Linked DNA regions of Homo sapiens: region 2 is linked to region 1. Evidence: fine-mapped expression QTL. A gene starts in region 1. The other region holds a variant in brackets. All regions are shown on one strand. Distances are from middle to middle. Region 1 holds the start of CFAP77 (cilia and flagella associated protein 77). Region 2 overlaps CFAP77 (cilia and flagella associated protein 77).

Region 1 (2,901 bases):
ACAAATGCATATGCATGTATGTGTGTGTGTGTGTGTGTGTGTGTGTGTGTACATATTGCTCAGCGTGGGCACCACACACTAACTCACCATGGAGAATAACTCCATACGCCCTCACTTTACACTTCAGTAGGAAGAAGTTGGCTCACTACTAACTACTTGAACAAAAGCAACGACCTAACCTTAATGCAGGTAGTCAGAGGTGGCGGACGTGATTCTCTCCTTCATCCAAGAATAATGGGCCCCACCTGCCTGTCCTGCCTGTCCACTCAGAGTGGCTCTTCTCACGTAGAAGTAAGTGAAGGACCTTGTTCCACTTTGAGAGGCCTAAGAAAGGAGCCTATTCGATGGAAAGGCACGAGTGTGGGAAGCCAGCCTCCCCCAGGTGCAGCCTGCGCCTAGGCAGTATCCTTCCTCCTCTCAGGACCGAGTTTAGGGAAGGCAAGAGGAGGGAGTCAATGTTTTGCCAGGAGCCAATTAACTCAGTTAATTCTAGCACGGGTTCCCTTTTCCCCAAAACAAAAACAAACCGCCACCACCACCTCTGGGCTCTACTCAGCGCCTGGCGGTCACACAAATAATTGTTGTTGAATCCACGGTTACCACCTGCGCCTTCCACTCCCGCACCTGGGACGCGGGGCGCATTTTTAAAGGCGCACTGCCCTCCAGCGGCGCAAGATAAATTCGCCTCGAGGCTTGCTCCCTGACCCCCAAGCCTCAGCCTGACTTCTCCAGTGGCCCCCGGGAAGGTGTGGCCGCCACAGCAGTGTTGGTTTCCCATCAGCGGGAAGCGAGGCTAAAGGTGGGGAGGAGGGAAGTGTAATGGAAGGGAAAGTGATCCAGCCCGAAACCGCAGCTCCCTCATTCTTGTCTGCGGAGCCTCCTAGGCCAAAGATTATGCTTTTTTTCTCTTAGGGTTGTAATTTGGGTAAGAAATTAGTATGATCGAACGGAAATGAACATTCGACGTGATGCTTCCAGGACAGACACGGAGCCACCGCTGCATAGACGTACCCCAGGCGTGCAGCGGAACCGGAGAGGCGGCCTTTACCCTGGGAGGGCTGGCAGCCACGACTTAGACTGGGCGTGTGCGACCTATCTGTCACCCTGTGGGTTCACTCTGTGGGAAACCACAGCAGCACCCATTGCAGCCTTACCCCATGTCAGGCGCTGTCCCGAGGTCCCGCAGAAATTACCCTATTCAATCTTCCCAATCAGTCCCTTTAGTGGTGCCATTATCATCCCACTGTGAGGATGGGGAAACCGAGGCTGAGAGAGGCGACGCGACCTGCATGGGGGTCCAGGCCTGTCTGGACCAGAGCTGGAGCTTCCCACGCTGCGCTCGGACCCCGGGCCGCGGGGCCAGGGCGCTGCGGGTGGGGACCCCCGGCGGCGCAGGTGCCCGGAGCCGGCGACAGCGAAAGCGCGGTGGGCGTGGGGTGCTCACCTTGACGATGAGAGGGTTCTGAAACATGGAGTCCCGCACGACCCCCAGCCGCTCGTTCTCCATGCCGGAACGGATGTCCGCCACGGTCAGGGGCCGCCGCGGGGGCGGGCAGACCTGGCTGACCGTGCGGCGCACAGGCTGCTGCTGCTTCCTCCATCGCGTGAGGTCCGGGCCGGAGCTCCTGGCCTCTGGCATCCTTGAGGTCGCCGGGGAGCCGGCCCGCGGGCTGGTTTGGGCGCGCTTCCCCACGTCGGGCACAGCCTGGAGCTCCGAAGGGCCTGCCGGGCGGCCCGGGCCGCACCACCGGGATCCTGAGGGGGAAACTCAGATGCCAGGACCCCTCCGGAGCCAGGCGCGCCCCGCTCGCGCCGGCCCCTCATCGCAAAGAGCCCCGGAGCAATGCAGGAGCCCCGCGGGATCCTCAGGGCGTCTCCTGGGCCCCGCGTTGCAGACTGGGAGAGGAAAGAAAACCAAGACCACCCCTGGAGGACGAATGCAACGGCCCGTCTCCTTGGCGACGGGACGCCAACAGAGCCCGGCTCGGCTTGTACTTTTCTTTCAAGAAACTCTTGGTGGCTACCAGTGTGGACTTGTTTGGAGTTTTCCTGAATCGATACAGGAGAACCGAGAATCTCCAGTGGGTTGCGTTCAAAGCGGCGTGGCTCATAGAGGGTCATTTACATTTGTCTTCCAAGTCGAAGACTCCATCCTCTGCTCACCCCCATTCCACTCACAACCCCTCCCCACCTCTGCTCTTTGCGCCACACACACACCTGAGACAGAGCACTAAATGCATTCCAAGCCTGATGCTGATGCTGACCCACTGGGAGGACTCGGGCAAGTCACCCTCTTGGATCCTAAGGGCTTTTTTTCTTTTTTTCCTGTGAGATGGGTGACAAGGAAACGCTAGAGTTGGATTACATCAATGGTTCCCAAATTTAAGCAACAGAATGAAGGGAAATTGAAAAATACAGATTTGGGCTGGGCTTGGCTGCTCACCCATGTAATCCCATTGCTTTGGGAAGCCTAGGAGGGAGGATGGCCTGAGCCCAGGAGTTTGAGACCAGCATGGGCAACATGGTGAGGTCTCATCTCTACCAAAAATTAAAAAAATTACCCAGGTGTGCTGGCACACACCTGTGGTCCCAGCTATGGGGGAGGCTGAGGCAGGAGGATCACTTGAGGAGGTTGAGACTACAATGAGCCGTGTTTCGGCAACTACATTCCAGTCTGGATGACAGAATGAGACCATGTGCCAAAAAAAGAAAAACGAAGATTCACAGGACTCACCCCAGACTCACTAAATCAGAATATCTGGAAATGGCATCTGAGGCTCTCCTTTTTTTTTTTTTTTTAAGAGACGGAGTCTTGCTCTGATAATGACATGAGCCACCTCACCAGGCCAGATGCTGCATTTTTAAAAATCCCCTTACCCACCCACCCACAACTTGGTGAAA
Region 2 (2,901 bases), 160 kb before region 1:
AGCTGTGCTTCGCACTCTTTTGCGGTATGGCGTGCTACCGCCTGCTCAGGGCCAGCCCACTCAGACTCTGCCTGCTTGGGAGATTGGAGGGATGAAGGAAAATGAGTATTGAAGACTTTTGGCTTCCACAGCTGGGTAGATGGTGGTCTTACTTATGAGATGGGAAAGACGGAGGGAGAAGTAAGTTTGGCAGAAAAAAAGTCAAGTGTCTGCCTTGGCTATGGTGGTTAACAATGAATGCCAGACACCCAAGGGGAGATGCTGAGTGGGCAGTTGGATAAATGAGTCTGGGGGCTGGGCGTGGTGGCTCATGCCTGTTATTCAAGCACTTTGGGAGGCTGAGGCGGGTGGATCACCTGAAGTCAGGAGTTTGAGACCAGCCTGCCCAACACGGTGAAACCCCATCTCTACTAAAAATACAAAAATTAGCTGGGCATGGTGGCATGCGCCTGTAATCCCAGCACTTCGGGAGGCTGAGGTGGGTGGATCACAAGGTCAGGAGATCGAGACCATCCTGGCTAACATGGTGAAACCCCGTCTCTGCTAAAAATATTTTTTAAAAATTAGCCGGGCGTTGTGGCGGGCACCTGTAGTCCCAGCTACTCAGGAGGCTGAGGCAGGAGAATGGTGTGAACCCAGGAGGTGGAGCTTGCAGTGAGCCGAGATTGCACCACTGCACTCCAGCCTGGGCGGCAGAGCAAGACTCTGTTTAAAAAAAAAAAAAAAAAGAAAGAAATCCTTGGCTGGGCGCGGTGGCTCATGCCTGTAATCCCAGCACTTTGGGAAGCCGAGGGGGGCAGATCATGAGGTCAAGAGATCAAGACCATCCTGGCCAACATGGTGAAACCCCATCTCTACTAAAAATACAAAAATTAGCTGGGTGTGGTGGTGCGCACCTGTAGTCCCAGCAACTCGGGAGGCTGAGGCAGGAGAATCGCTTGAACCCAGGAGGCAGAGGTTGCAGTGAGTTGAGATTGCGCCCCTGCACTCCAGCCTGGCAACAGAGTGAGACTCTGTCTCAAAAACAAACAAGCAAACAAACAAAAAAAACCCTTAGATTAGAAATGATATTTAAAACTTGAAAATTTGCCTCCCTCAAAAAAGGTGTGGCTGGAATGTTTTGGAGGTTAGCTTACCTTGAGAGGTCTCTATGTGGCAGCACCCTCATTTGATGTCTCTAAGGCTGATTTGCTCACTGGTTTTCAAATGGAGACACAAAAGGAGGATGACAAATAGCATTTTTAATTTAAAATAGATCAGCATAAAATTTTCAGAGAGAATCCAAAGAACACACGGAAAGACCGAGTGAGGAAGTGTCCAGGAATTCGGCTGAGAAGCTCAGCAGCCTGTGTTCAGCAGTCTACCCGCTGGCCTGGAAGGCTTTTTCCAGAGTGGGTTGACCTTCCAAAGTCAGTCCTGGGGGAGGAGTCCAACTTGGCCTGCTTGATTGACGGGGCCCCAGCACTGAGGAGGCGGGGGCAGGCTCGAGTAATGAACCATTGGCTCTTCCTGCTGTCAGAGGTCCCAGAGAGATAATACTGCCGTGATGAGACATCAGGCATCCCAAAAAGAGCAATTAAAACTCATGTTTGGAATAGAAAATGAGG[G/T]CTTTCAAAGCACGTCACTGTCATGCTTTCTGCAGCAAATACACAGGTCGTTCTTAACACTTAATGGGCAGAGCCATGGAATCGACCCTTAGCCTGGAGTCTAAAAAATTGTCTTGTAATTTGGGCTTGTCTTGGCAGGTGAGGGCTTGAGAAGAGGCAGGGTGAGCCTGCCCTAGGAGGAGAAGGAGGAGGAGAGGAGGAGGCTCCAGGTAGAGGGTCACTGGGGCTAAGTGGAGACTAATGTTGGCTAACCTAAAAGGGGGGACTTTTACCAAAAACAATTAGCCTAAGACTTGAATCTGAGCTCCTTGAAGCAGAACCTGCATAAAAATGGGGGAATGTCAGGGTTGGGGCAAGATAGGGAGTCCTTCTGGGAATTTTCCACTATGTCAAGATGGCTTCTTGTGGCAGGGGAGGGAGGGGCTAGGGGTGGGTGTAGTTGCCCATCCGCAGGGTCCCCTGGCGCACGGCACACTCTTCCCGGTGGGCTTTTAATGCTCTCTGGCGATCGGCCTCCGTGGGGAACGTATCAAGGTGGCGGCCCACCTGTGGATAGAAGGGAAGAGTGGGTGGGTGAGGGGAGACTTCAGTGTAGCTCATTCCAGTTGCTCCCCTCGCCTGCCCCCTGCTTCAATCTTAGAATAATGATAAAAATAGCTGTAAGAGGGAGGAAGTCACAGCAAGTGCTGTGAGCCTCCTGGTGCTGAGCCACGAGGCAGAGAGCAGGGGCTACCTGGGGGAACTGTTCGTCCTTCTGTCCAGCTCCTTGCTGGGGAAGATACAGGCAGAACAAAAATCACCAGGCCATGACCAGACGACCACGCAATGGGACCTAGTAGCCAGTGTCCTTCATGCACTACTTTTCCACCATTAAAAACCCCAAACAAGCCACCCTCTCCAAGGGGGACCTCCTGACCCTGTCTGCACTCCCTTGCTGGGAATTAGATCACTTCCCTCCTCTCTGGTGGCAGCCACCACAGGAGTCAAGAGCTGAACTTCAATATCACCAGAACCAGAGCTCAAGAATAAATCAGAAAAAAAAAAAAAAAATGCAAGGGAGACAGATTCAAAGAGTGGGAGCCTCTTCAGTTAAGATTTTGTGCAATCGGTATCTCAGCCTGCCCTTTCTTCTCAAGAAATGGTGGTGGGTGAAGACCCCGCCTCGCCTCCTGGTGTCCACTGTGTCTGTTACATCACCTCCAAGTGCTACAAAATCCATCCCATTAACAGCACAACATCCTCCTGCCTCAGCATTTCTCCTTTGGGATAACCTAAGGGCGGCACAGGGTGGAAA

The links.
Region 2: its variant is fine-mapped to the expression of CFAP77 in nasal epithelium (TOPMed, PIP above 0.99). The same link has a PIP of 0.9 or more in lung.

What each region holds. Positions count from the first base shown.
Region 1 is chr9:132,409,010-132,411,910 of GRCh38, reverse strand. CFAP77 (cilia and flagella associated protein 77) reads right to left here and starts at 1,700. Exons shown (of 6, transcript NM_001282957.2): 1 at 1,445-1,700. The coding sequence starts at 1,639. LOC105376304 (a long non-coding RNA gene) reads right to left here and starts at 1,270. Exons shown (of 3, transcript XR_930405.2): 1 at 180-1,270. RefSeq lists a silencer at 543-592.
Region 2 is chr9:132,571,640-132,574,540 of GRCh38, reverse strand. CFAP77 (cilia and flagella associated protein 77) reads right to left here. Exons shown (of 6, transcript NM_001282957.2): 6 at 1,222-2,153. The coding sequence ends at 2,031. Among named protein-coding and RNA genes, the nearest start is that of BARHL1, 9.5 kb to the left of the region's middle. The variant G/T (reference allele first, on the strand shown) is at 1,608.